Homo sapiens: one gene and its partners. The protein of the gene in region 3 purifies or fractionates together with the protein of the main gene of each other region. This does not show direct contact. Each region holds a gene or a part of one and is shown on either strand. Other genes may lie near its edges.

What was found.
Region 1: the proteins of SDF4 (region 3) and ACAD11 purify together in Homo sapiens (affinity purification with mass spectrometry; 4 studies listed by BioGRID and IntAct, with this or other methods). This does not show direct contact.
Region 2: the proteins of SDF4 (region 3) and MYO9B purify together in Homo sapiens (affinity purification with mass spectrometry; 3 studies listed by BioGRID and IntAct, with this or other methods). This does not show direct contact.

What each region holds. Positions count from the first base shown.
Region 1 is NC_000003.12:132,576,154-132,579,899, reverse strand, and holds part of ACAD11 (acyl-CoA dehydrogenase family member 11), read left to right. Parts: intron 1-341; coding exon 342-408; exon of another isoform or gene 409-1,018; coding exon 1,019-1,104; intron 1,105-2,884; coding exon 2,885-2,956; intron 2,957-3,746. UniProt on the Homo sapiens protein: Acyl-CoA dehydrogenase, that exhibits maximal activity towards saturated C22-CoA.
Region 2 is NC_000019.10:17,074,208-17,077,953, reverse strand, and holds the start of MYO9B (unconventional myosin-IXb), read right to left. Parts: upstream 2,178-3,746; 5' UTR 2,080-2,177; intron 1-2,079. Other genes in the region: HAUS8 (HAUS augmin-like complex subunit 8), read left to right, coding at 2,532-2,560. UniProt on the Homo sapiens protein: Myosins are actin-based motor molecules with ATPase activity. Unconventional myosins serve in intracellular movements. Binds actin with high affinity both in the absence and presence of ATP and its mechanochemical activity is inhibited by calcium ions.
Region 3 is NC_000001.11:1,218,305-1,222,050, forward strand, and holds part of SDF4 (45 kDa calcium-binding protein isoform 2 precursor), read right to left. Parts: intron 2,427-3,746; coding exon of another isoform or gene 2,395-2,426; exon of another isoform or gene 630-2,394; intron 624-629; coding exon 465-623; intron 330-464; coding exon 154-329; intron 1-153. UniProt on the Homo sapiens protein: May regulate calcium-dependent activities in the endoplasmic reticulum lumen or post-ER compartment. Isoform 5 may be involved in the exocytosis of zymogens by pancreatic acini.

The DNA of each region.
Region 1 (3,746 bases), on a different chromosome or scaffold from region 3:
TATAAAATATTATATTAGACATATAAAATTTCTCAGCTTTTCTAGCATGCTGATGTCTGAAATGGTGTAAATGGGAGAGGTGGCAGTTCTTTCATGCTGCTTTGACTTCTGGTTATTTTTGTGTAGCAGCTTTCATTGATGGGGTCCATTCTTGGCCTTGCCTAATCATTTTTCTTGGATGATATAGAGTGTTACAAAAGAATTATTATCTTAATGAATCAGGAATGTTCTCTCTATTTGTTTTCTGACATAGGTAAAGTGGGAAGGATTAGAACCTTCAAGGTGAAATGTCAAACTAGAAATTTCCTTTTATAATCTGCTTGTGTTCCCCTTGGTTTTAGGAGCTGGGAATCCCAAGTGCAAAATTGCAATTGTTTTGGGAAGAACTCAAAATACTTCTCTCTCCAGGTAATTAAACAATTCTGATTGAGAAACCTGTGTAGGAATGAGCCAGTCTTCCTCCTATCTAGGTAATTTACTTAAAATTCACTGTTTGGACTCACAAATCATAATGTAAGATATGAGAGTAAATGTCATATATTTGTATTTCACAAGTATTTTCTAACAGGTGTTTTTGGAAAACATTATAGGGAGTATTGCTGAACATTCTTCGCTGTGGAATTTTCAGTATTAGAAAGTGTTGCTAAATTATCAAAGCTGTTTGGATTAAATTATCAGACAAATTTTTTCAGACCTGTGTAATGAAGTGATTAGATGTTTAGATCAAAGGCAATAATCTTGAAATGTTTAATTATATATATAAGTTCCCAGTTACCATTGTTGAGCAGTGAGAAGCTTCAATCAAACAACTCATTTATTTTCAAATCATTGTTTCTGTTCCAGATCACAGCCTGCATCAGACTATGTTGGTGTACGTCTTTTACACAGTTCCCATTCCAGTCATCACTGCTTACATGACTACATGAAAACATCAAAAAGACAATTGTGATTCTGCTTATTATCTGTTTTATTTTTCTTCTTAGCAAACTTTTTCTAATACAATTTTTCTTTTGACTAGACACAAACAGCACAGCATGATTCTTGTTCCCATGAACACACCTGGAGTAAAAATAATAAGGCCTTTGTCAGTTTTTGGCTACACAGGTAGGTATCCAATAAATATGACCATGCATTAGCAAGCAGGAAGGCTAGAATATGCAGTAACATTGAAGGCAATAGCATTTTAATGCATAAGATAGATTCTTAGATATTCCTTTGTCTGTGACAACTGTCTTAATATAAATGCTGGTGGAGTTCAGAGTAGAGCCAATAAAAAGAAATAGTATAGCATTTATGTAATTTATAATTATATAAATTATAGAATTTATAGAATATAAATTCTGCCTTTTTGGGAAAGGGCAGATTGTATTTAAGGAAGAGCAACACTACCAGTCTTTTCTCTGTCATTCATAAAAATGGATTAATGCACAGATAATCCACAATAAAATTATTTTTATCTCCAATTTTAGCCCTCTTAATCAATCAACTTACAAGAACTGTTAAAAAGCAATGAGTTTTTGACTTATTTGAGTGCAAAATTTTCCTTCCTCTGCCCTTGGGTGGGACTTCTAAGAAGCAAAGATCCATTTGTTTCCTGCCACCTACTGTGGCACGTGTTCATTGTGTACAATAAATATTTGCTAAGATCACCCTCTCAGCAAGTATTTGCTTAGCCACCATGCCCAGCTAATTTTTGTATTTTTAGTAGAGACGGGCTTTCACCATGTTGGCCAGGCTGGTCTCGAACTCCTGACCTCAGGTAATCCACCCTCCTCGGCCTCCCAAAGTGCTGGGATTATAGGTATGAGCCACCGGGCCCAGCCCCTGGCTTTCTTTTTATCATTGAATATGACTAATGAATATGTTCAAGTGGCAGATATAAGACTTGCAGTTTTATAGAATCACTTATCAGTTAAGATGCAGCTGTAGAGTATACCCACAGGGTAAGCATAGGTGGCAAGATGGGATGAGCAAGCTTGCTGGAGAAAATTGCATGTAGGAAATTGTTGGGTTGCAGCGAAACGGCCGCAAAGATACCAAAAATGCGTTTATAATATAGTTGAGCTGCAAATAATTTCCATTGCAGAGGCTACATTTGATTATTCAGTATGAAAACTTTACTAGCACCTCTCCAACTCCCTGTGTCCAGGGCCAAAAGAAACAGTGTGGAGAAGGCTGATTATTGTCTCCTCTGACAGGAAAAGGGTGTAGAGTTAGCATGAGATTATCTCTAAAACTTGGCAGGGAGAAGGGGTGATGCAAAGATAAAATGTGAACGTGTTCCTGGCCTCAGTGTTTCAAATGCCAGTATTTTCAAGAGACGAACACACAGTGGAACAAGTCTAGACTGGGAGTAAACCTACCTGAAGGTCTAGTTTCTGTATCATCACTAATGCCAAGCCTGCTCTTTCCCCTCAAGCAGGCCCCTGTCATCTTTAGGCGTTGGTTTCCACAATGATAAAATAAGAAACATGGATTACATTACTCATTTTTAATTTTTGAAACATTGAAACTTTTTTCCATGCAAATTGTTTGGAACCCCATATGTAAAATATTTCAAAGAAGCAGCAATAATAAAACAAATAAAATACTCTGGCTGGATCTATGGAGCCTGGTCTTCCTTTTTCCTAGCTCTCTGAAATTGTACTTCAGAGAATGAATTAGAAAACATCTGGATCAAAGGGTTTCTCTTCTTGAACAGTTGATGAGTTTTCTGGGCTGCTGGGTCCTGGGGTTCAGGGCTGAGGCTTACCTCAGAATGTTCATGCCATATGGATCTTTGAAATCCTATTTTCTTCAAGTAATTATATTTCAGCAGATTAAGAATATGTGACTCTTTTTTAGTCAACTCCTTTTGCTCTAAATTTTATTTTCTATTTTATAGATAATTTTCATGGAGGACATTTTGAGATCCATTTTAATCAAGTGCGAGTTCCTGCCACAAATCTAATACTAGGTGAGTTGAATTTGGAAATGATTCTTCAGTATTGTACATTAATATTTCAGCTCTAAATCTGGAAAAGATAAGTCTTTCCAGATTTAGACCTGAAGTCTACCTTGATTTAGATATTAGGTTCGTGCAAAAGTTATTGCGGTTTTTGAACTGCAATTACTTTTGCACCAAGGTAATTGCAGTTTTTGGCAAAAGCCGCAATTACTTTTGCACCAACCTAATACTTTCCCTTCTTGTTTACTCCATTTGTCAAGGGAAAGTTTTCTGTTTGGCGGATTTTCTTACATGGAATGGTGAGGTTTTATTTAAGTGTTGGATGTGGTTTTCTATATCACATCAATTGAAAAGATAATATGAAAATTATATAATTCAGAGCAATACACTTTCTCCTAGAACATGATCTGTAGGCCTCTATTTGTTTTAAGAAAACCTCAGTACTTTATGAATTCAAGTATTAGATATAAGTTAGAAGCATAAATAACTTTGAACACTGTATGCCATCCTCTTGCTTATTAGAATACTATATCCCTTTCAAAGAACATCTAGAATACCACCTCTTCCAGGAATGTTTTTGTGTTCATCCCATCCATTCACCAGGCCCCTGATACCTGCCAGGCCCTGAGGTTATAATGATGAACAGAAAATCTCTTCTTCCTTTGCCTTTGTTTCTCTCTGTATCTCTTACCCTTACCCACTCTTCTGGATTCTAAACTCCTAGTACAGGGACTATGTGTTATTCCAACTTTGTATCTATTGCAGCATTAATAAAATAGCTTATGCATAGTACATACTT
Region 2 (3,746 bases), on a different chromosome or scaffold from region 3:
ACTGCCTCGGGATTTCCAGAAATTTGCAGTTTCCAAAGCTTTGGGAATAGGTGCAATGTGCAAAAGCACCTTCAACACCGCAATTTTCTATTTGGACGATGAAGAAGCGGTTGAAAAAAAATCATTTTTGGATACAAACTGTCGAATGGAAAACGGAATAAAAGTAGGATCATCGCAGCCAGGAATGGAGAGTGGGGGTGCTGTGAGGAGTTCAAGGCCGGGAGCTGGGGGACATGGACTGGAGACAAGACGGTGATGAGAAGAGTTGGGTTTCAAGGTTGAAAAACGCTGATGGAGGTCAATTCATTCATTTTGCAGGTGAGAGGTCAGAAACAGGCACAGAGACTTGACCAAAGCCAGGATCTCCAACACAGTGCTCCCCCCACAAGACCCTGCTTGGCCATTCTCTAGCGGCAGGGAAGAGGCGATTGCAGGGCTGCGGGATCAGAAGATCCCGGTCCTGTTCTGTAGGCCAGTGCAAGCCTACAGTTCAATGTTTGCAGGAGGCATGACTGTGGGCTGTCACTGCATGTCCTGGGGCAAGCCAGGCCAAAGCCACCTTTCCTAAAGGCCAGGATATTCTGGAAGTGAAGGGGGTGCTTATCTTTCTGTGGCCCTCTTTATATTCCAGCTATCCGGGTTCATCTCCTGAATGAGCTATAAACTAAACATAAGCTGGGGTTCCCCAGCCCTTCTGGCAGATCCCAGATAAAGATCCCTACAGTTGGGAAAGGGGAGAAATGAATGCCAATCAAAAGCACCCTGCACAAAGTCCCTGCCAGGGCCACAAGAGCCAGGCCTGTCAGATGTGAATAACTTTCCTGTAGCCCAGGTCACCTCCGGCTGCTCCTGGACACCTTAAGATTCTGAAGACTCCAACATCAAAAAACAAACCGAGTTGGGACTCTCTGGCTGGAAAGTGTCCCCACGGGCTCCCACCTCAGACAAAGAGGCAGAGAAGCCATCCCTTAAAGACCCCTGGCCTCCAGGGTGCCCAGGAAAGAAAGGAGGGCTCGTGGCTGTCGTGCCTCTCCAGGGCTGAGCTCAGAGCAACCGGGGGACAGATTTCCTGTATGTCGTTTTACCCATTTAAGTCCAAGGATGCAGCTCTGCGGAGGTGGCGACAGTCCTGTACATGAGGGTGCATGCACACTCCCTCCTGAAACACAGTTCCGGCCCCACAACCGGCCCTGAGGTCCCTTCCTTGGATCCAGGGAATCCCAGAATCCTGCTAGTCCTGTCTTAAGGGGAGGGTGGTGAAGTTTCCAAGACGAGGACACTGGCACAGAGGGTGTTGGGACTCGTCCCAGGTCACCCAGCTGTTAAGTGTGAAGTCAGGAGGGACACGAATCAAGAGGGGAGGGTGGGGGGACGGAATCTCCAGGGGCTGCATCTCAACATCTATCTGCACGGGGCCACTCTAACCCCTTCCTTCTCTTCCCTCCTCTCCGGGCCCTCCCTCCCTAAGCCTACCCTCAGTTCTTACCGTGACTTCTACTCCGTTTACTTCCCTTCCAGCTCCCATTTCCCCGCTTCCCAATAGCCGGCTGCCGCATCAGTTAGTTCAGAACCCCCCGCATTTACTGAGCGCCCACTGGGGGCCAGGCGCCGCCCTCTTCTCAGACACCCTTCCTTCAATCGCGCGGGCAGACGTCCCCAGATCGGTCTCGCACCCCTTCCCCTCAACCGCACCCCGGCTGTCCCGCCCCTGGCCTTGCCCACTCCCCCAGCCTGGGCCTCTCGTTCCCGCCTCCGTGCCTCCCCACAACGCCGTTTCCTGCGACCCCCCAATTACCACTTAAGCCACGTCCTCTTCAGAGAAGCTGCTCAAAGCCACAAGACTCACCCCCCCCACGCCCTCGAACTCCCTCACCAGCTCCATCCCCATCCACTTTCTCCTTCACCGTCTCGCTTCCACCTCATCCCCAGCAATCTCTCCAAGACCCCCAGGCTCGTTCCCGCCCCCTCGACCCCTGCCGTCGCGTCCCCCATCAGCCCTCAGCTCCGTCCCTCTTCTGCGCAGCCCCCAAAGGCAGGCTTCGAGCTCGAGTCGCCAACCCGAGGCTGCCTGGTACTCACCTGGCCTCGGCCGCCGCGCGCCGCCGGTCCCGGGCCGGGTCCCCGGCCGGACGACCGCCTGCCAGCCCGCCGCTGCTCGAGCCGCTCCGCCCCGCCGCGCCCGCCGCTCCCCCGCGCGCTCCCGCTTCCGGGTTCCGGAGAGGCGGGGACGGGGGCGTGACGCCAGCGCTCCTAGGGGCGGGGCATCGCGAAAAGCCCCGCCCCTACTGTCCGACAGATCAGGTCCCACCCACCGCCCCTACCCACTACCGCCGATGGTGGGCGAGACCAAGTGCGAGGGGAGGACAGGCGAAGCGCGCGTCTGGGGCCGCGCTCTCCACACTTAGCCGGCGCTGCCTCACGCCTCGCAGCCACCCCTCCTGCGTCTCCACAAATGGTCCGACCCGCAAGCAAGGGGGCGGGTCCGGCTTTGAAAAGCCGGCGGGTCGGGCCTTGAGGTGGAAGGCGGGAAAATGGCGGATTCCTCGGGGCGAGGCGCTGGGTGAGTTGGGGCTTCCGCAGGTCTGGATTTGTAGACGCCATAGGGCTGGAGAGGATGGGCAGCGGAGGTGGGGAGTTAGGACCCTCGGGGTGAGTTCGGGTTCGACCCCGCCAGGAACTGCGCGGGCCCCTGAAGACCCCGATGGCGTGCTGCCTCTGCGCATGCTCCGGAGCGCTGACACCCGACCGGCCCTGAGTTCCGCGTCCTCGGCTGGGACGCTGGGCGACCTCCGGCAAGCGGCCTGACCGCCCAGTGCCTCGCTTTCCTCCGCTACGAAATGGGGCCGATGACGCAGCTCAACCTCGTAGGCGTCGCGTGAGGCTGAAACGCGCTTAGATCGGCGCCTGGGTCTTTACTGTGATGTCGCTCTTGGAATTATCGTTATGCAGTGAACAAGTGTTGGGCGACCAAAGTGTCCCCTTTAATCCTCCCACGCGCTTTATTCTGTGCTCCCAGTTTACTGAGGAGATGATGGAGACCCAGGGAGGGGAAGTGACTTGCCTAGGGTAACACACCATGAACAAGAAAGAAGTTGAATACTGACCGAGAGCTAGGCATGAATGATCATGAGGCTATATTTGTCTAGTTTTGTTAATTCTGCCAGTGTTGATTGTGCCAGGTGCAAACTGAAGTGAAATTGGCCAGCAAGAGGAATCACTCCACCGCCCCTTGCCGTAACCGATAGATTGACAGTAGCACCTCCCAGGTACAGGTGCAGTAGCTGAGGCTCGCACAGGTTGTAGGGACCCCCCTCAGGTCGCAGCAGGTTCACCCAGGAGCCCATTCGGTTTGAGGCCACAGCCCTAGCACAGTCCCCAGAGGGAGTCTGTGCTCTTGTCTCTTTCTGGCTGTGAGACTGCCCCGGGGGTGACCTATGTAAAACCTGTGCGTCTTTGTTTTGCAGCGACGAAAAAGCAGGTGTGAACAGTTAGGAAGCTGTCGGGTTAGGAGGAGCCTACGGGCGAGCGCAGCTGCTGGCACCTGGCGAACATTTGCTAAGTTGCCTCTCCCCACGGTGGCCTGGAAGTGTCCCCAACATTGTCTGGGTCTCACTTTGGGGTCCTGGGAGCCTGCTTCAGAGGAGGTGGCCGCAGGGACCAGTGGAGCCGCCTTTGGTGATGGGAGCAGGAGTTACAGTGCCCTGGCCTTGGCCCTGCCCCTCCACTTGCCCATCCACTTGCCCCTC
Region 3 (3,746 bases):
GACACCGCTGAGCAAACGCCCCAGTGACCAGCCCAGATGGAGTCTCAGGCCAGACACCAGCACAGCTTCCTGCCTCAGGCCCAGATCCACCAGCCCCTCCCGCCACAGCACCTCGCAGGGCCGGCTCCGGGACACGGCTGCGCCAGGGCTCACCTCCAGCTCCTCGGCGGTCACGATGCCGTCGTGGTTGGAGTCAATGAGCTCCTCAAACTCCTTTTTTCTGTCTTTCACCCAGTTGTCGTCAATGTCCTGGCCCTGCTGGTTCTCCACGGTGCCCACGGGCAGGGAGATGAACTCGGGCACAGAGAGCTGCTTGTCACCGTCCTGGTCTGCGAGACGGGAATGGGTCAGCCCACACCCAGGCTGGGGCTCCCGCAGGACCTGCCCCGACCTCCCGACGATGCCCGGCCCCTGCCAGTCGGTCCTGGGTCCTGGCGTGCCGGCCAGGCTGGACCCAGCCTCACCCAGGTCCCGGACGATCTCCTTCACCATGAACCTGAGCATTCCCCGGCTGTGCTCGGGGTGGAGGAACGACAGGAACTCCTCCTCCGTCAGCAGCAGGTCTGCAGGGGGGCTGTCCGCCTGGTACCAGCGGTCCTTCAGGTTCTCCAGGACTTCCTGTGCTGAGAGGGGCGCAGCCTGTGGGTATCGAGGCCGACAGACGCCAGCACGCAAATCCAGAAAGTTCCGAGAGGTGCTGCCTGAACTCGAGGGACACAGCCACCCGCGAGACCGGGGCCCCACCCTCCAGGATTCACACGTCCCCAGAACATGGCCCAGCCCCTAAGACACAGCCTGGACCCCCGCCAAGACATAACCCAGAGCCTCCCACAGGCCTGATCCCCAAAGGCATAGCTTGGACCCCTCCACACAGCCCGGACTCCCCAAGACAGCCTGGACCCCCCCCTGCCCCAGACCCCCAATACATGGATGGCCCTGACTCCCCACAGACACAGCCCAGACCCCCAGGACATGGCCTGGACCCCCCACACAGCCCAGACCTCTCAAGACATGATCCAGAACCTCCCCATGGCCCAGACCACCCCAGGACACAGCTCAGAGCCCCTCATGCCTGGGACCCCTCAGGATGGGCCTGGGCCCCACCCCCCACACCCGCGCCTGCCCCTCTGGAGGAGCGGAATCACCCTGAAGGCTGACGTGCGCACGGCGCCGCGGGGCGAAGGACTCACTGCCCTTTTCCGTTTCCTTCACGTGTGACGTCACAGGGAGGAAAACACAGTTTCTAGAAATGACTGAGACTGGGGCTGAGCAGAGCTTCCCAGGAACCCTCCCAGCCGGGACACGGCACTGCCTCTGGGTGTGTGGCCCCCGCTCTCCTGCCGTGCCCACCCGGCCCCAACGGGCCCTCACCCCGAGGTCCCCACACATCCCAAGGACCCAAGCCACCCTGGGTCTCCAGGACAGAAACACCACCTCCTGCCCCATCTTGGGGCTCACTGCAGTCAGTGGCCAAGTCCAGTGTTGAGGCCCACACTCAGCCCCCTGCACGTGAGGCCCGACTCTGCCCTGGCCGAAGCCCCTGCCACAAGCCCGGCAGCCTCTGCGTCGCGCTCACTGCGGGATGAGGCCCAGCTGCCGTCCCATCTTATCCCTTTCTGAACAACCTCCATCTACACGACCGGTTCACTTAAAGGAAGACAGGAGTGACGGGGCTGTGGTTCCTGGGGCACCCCTCCCTGTCTGCTCCACCGCAGCTCCTGGGATGGATGGACGGGGCCAAACTGAGACCCATCCAGGAGAGGCACAGACGCCCCAGACAGGCCGGCCGAGAGACGCTTTCTCCAGCACAGGATTCTCACAGCCGCCGCCGAGCCCCAGCACCAACCTCAGGCTGGTGAAGAAGCCTTGAGTCCCAGTCCCTCCCCACGAGCCGGGCCTCTGCTGTTAGGGAAGGATCTGGAGAGACCCTCCTGGATCAGGGAGAGTCAACGACTGCTGTCCCTGTGAGAAGAGGACGCAGACCCAGAGAGAGGCAGCGATGGAGGCGGGGGAAGGGAGTGATGCCCGCCTGCCACGCCTTCACCGCGGTCCCCAGAATCAGGTCTGAGGCGCGAGGACAGCAGCCCCCGGACTCACGCGGTGACCCTCGCAGGAGCCATGCAGGGAGGGGTGGGAGGTCGCAGGAGTGACGCCTGCCAGCGCTTCCCAGGCCCCTCCTCCAGGACCCGGCAGCTGCTCTTCCTGAGCCAGAAACCAAATACCCAAAGAGGTCGGGGGGTCCTAGGCACCCTGAGGTCGGGGAGGCCAAGACGGATCGGACACGGGTGGGCAGGGAACAGCACCTCAGCATGCATGGGGACCCCCAAAACGCAGAGTGAATTCTAAACACACCTCTGCTGAGTCCCAAAGGTAGACGGAGGCTTCACAGAAATGTCACAGAGCTCTAGGTCCAGGTGGGCCATGTCCTGGGCAGAAAAGACCCAAATAAAGTGGCACCAAGGAAAGACAGACACAATCAGAGTTGGGGGGCGGGCACGGGCAAGGCCTCCTGCCCCAAGCACATCGCCAACAGGCCGGACCAACGGGATGAAGCTTAAAGACGCAGTCAGGACAGCAGGGAACGCGGGACCGGGGTGGAGGCACGAACCGTGTGTGGGGAGGAAAATGTAAACCACTCTTTTGGAAAGGAAGTAATAACGTCCAATTTGGCCGGGCACTGGGGCTTGTGCCTGTAATCCCGGCATGCTGGGAGGCTGCGGCAGGCAGATCCCTTTAGCCCAGGACTTTGAGACCAGCCTGGGCAACACAGGGAGATCCTCTTACTTTTAGTTTTTTTAATGTCCAATTTGCAGGATTTAGAACGGACAGGACCAAACTCCAGATAAGAGTACGTGAACTGGGAAAAGAGCAGGCAGAGCCAACAGGCTCAAAAGTCTCCGCGTCATTCTAGAAGGTCAAGGCCAGGCACAGGGGCTCATGCCTGCAACCCCAGGATGGGGAGAGGCCAAGGCAGGCGGGTCACTCGCGCCTGCAACCCCAGGACGGGGGGAGGCCGAGCGGGTCACTTGAACCCTCTGAAATCCAAGAGTTTGAGACCTACCTAGGCAACATGGGGAGACCTTGTGTCTACAAAATATATGTTTTTGAATCAGCTGGGCATGGTGGCACACACTGGTGGTCCCAGTCACTCAGGAGGCCGCCCCCATGGGGGCTGGTCACATGATATGGGCCGTTCCTGGCAGGAACGTATCTTACACCTTTATTTTTCTGTCCTCCAAGGAGGATAGATTGAGCCCAGGATGTGGAGGCTACAGGTGAGCTGAGATCGCACCACTGCACTCCAGCCTGGGCAACAGTGAGGCCCTCACTCTTAAACAATTAAAAATTAAAAATTAAAAAAAGAAAGAGGCTAAGACTAGGCGCAGTGGCTCACGCCTATAATCCCAGCACTTTGGGAGACTGCAGTAGGCGGATGACTTAAGTCCAAGAGTTTGAGACCAACCCGGCCAACACGGCAGAATCTATCCGTACAAAAAATACAAAAATTAGCCAGGCGCGGTGATGGTGCCTGTGGTCCCAGCTTCTGAGGTAGGAGGATCGCCTGAGCCCTGGAAGGTACAGCTGCAGGGAGCCGAGACTGCACCACTGCACTGCAGGCTGGGTAGCAGAGTGAGACCGTCTCATGAAAAAAGAAAGAAGAGGTGGTTTGCCTTGAGACTCTGGTGAGGAAATGTGTGTTACTGATAAGTTAAGCAGGCACAAAAAATAAAGGTGTAAGATACACC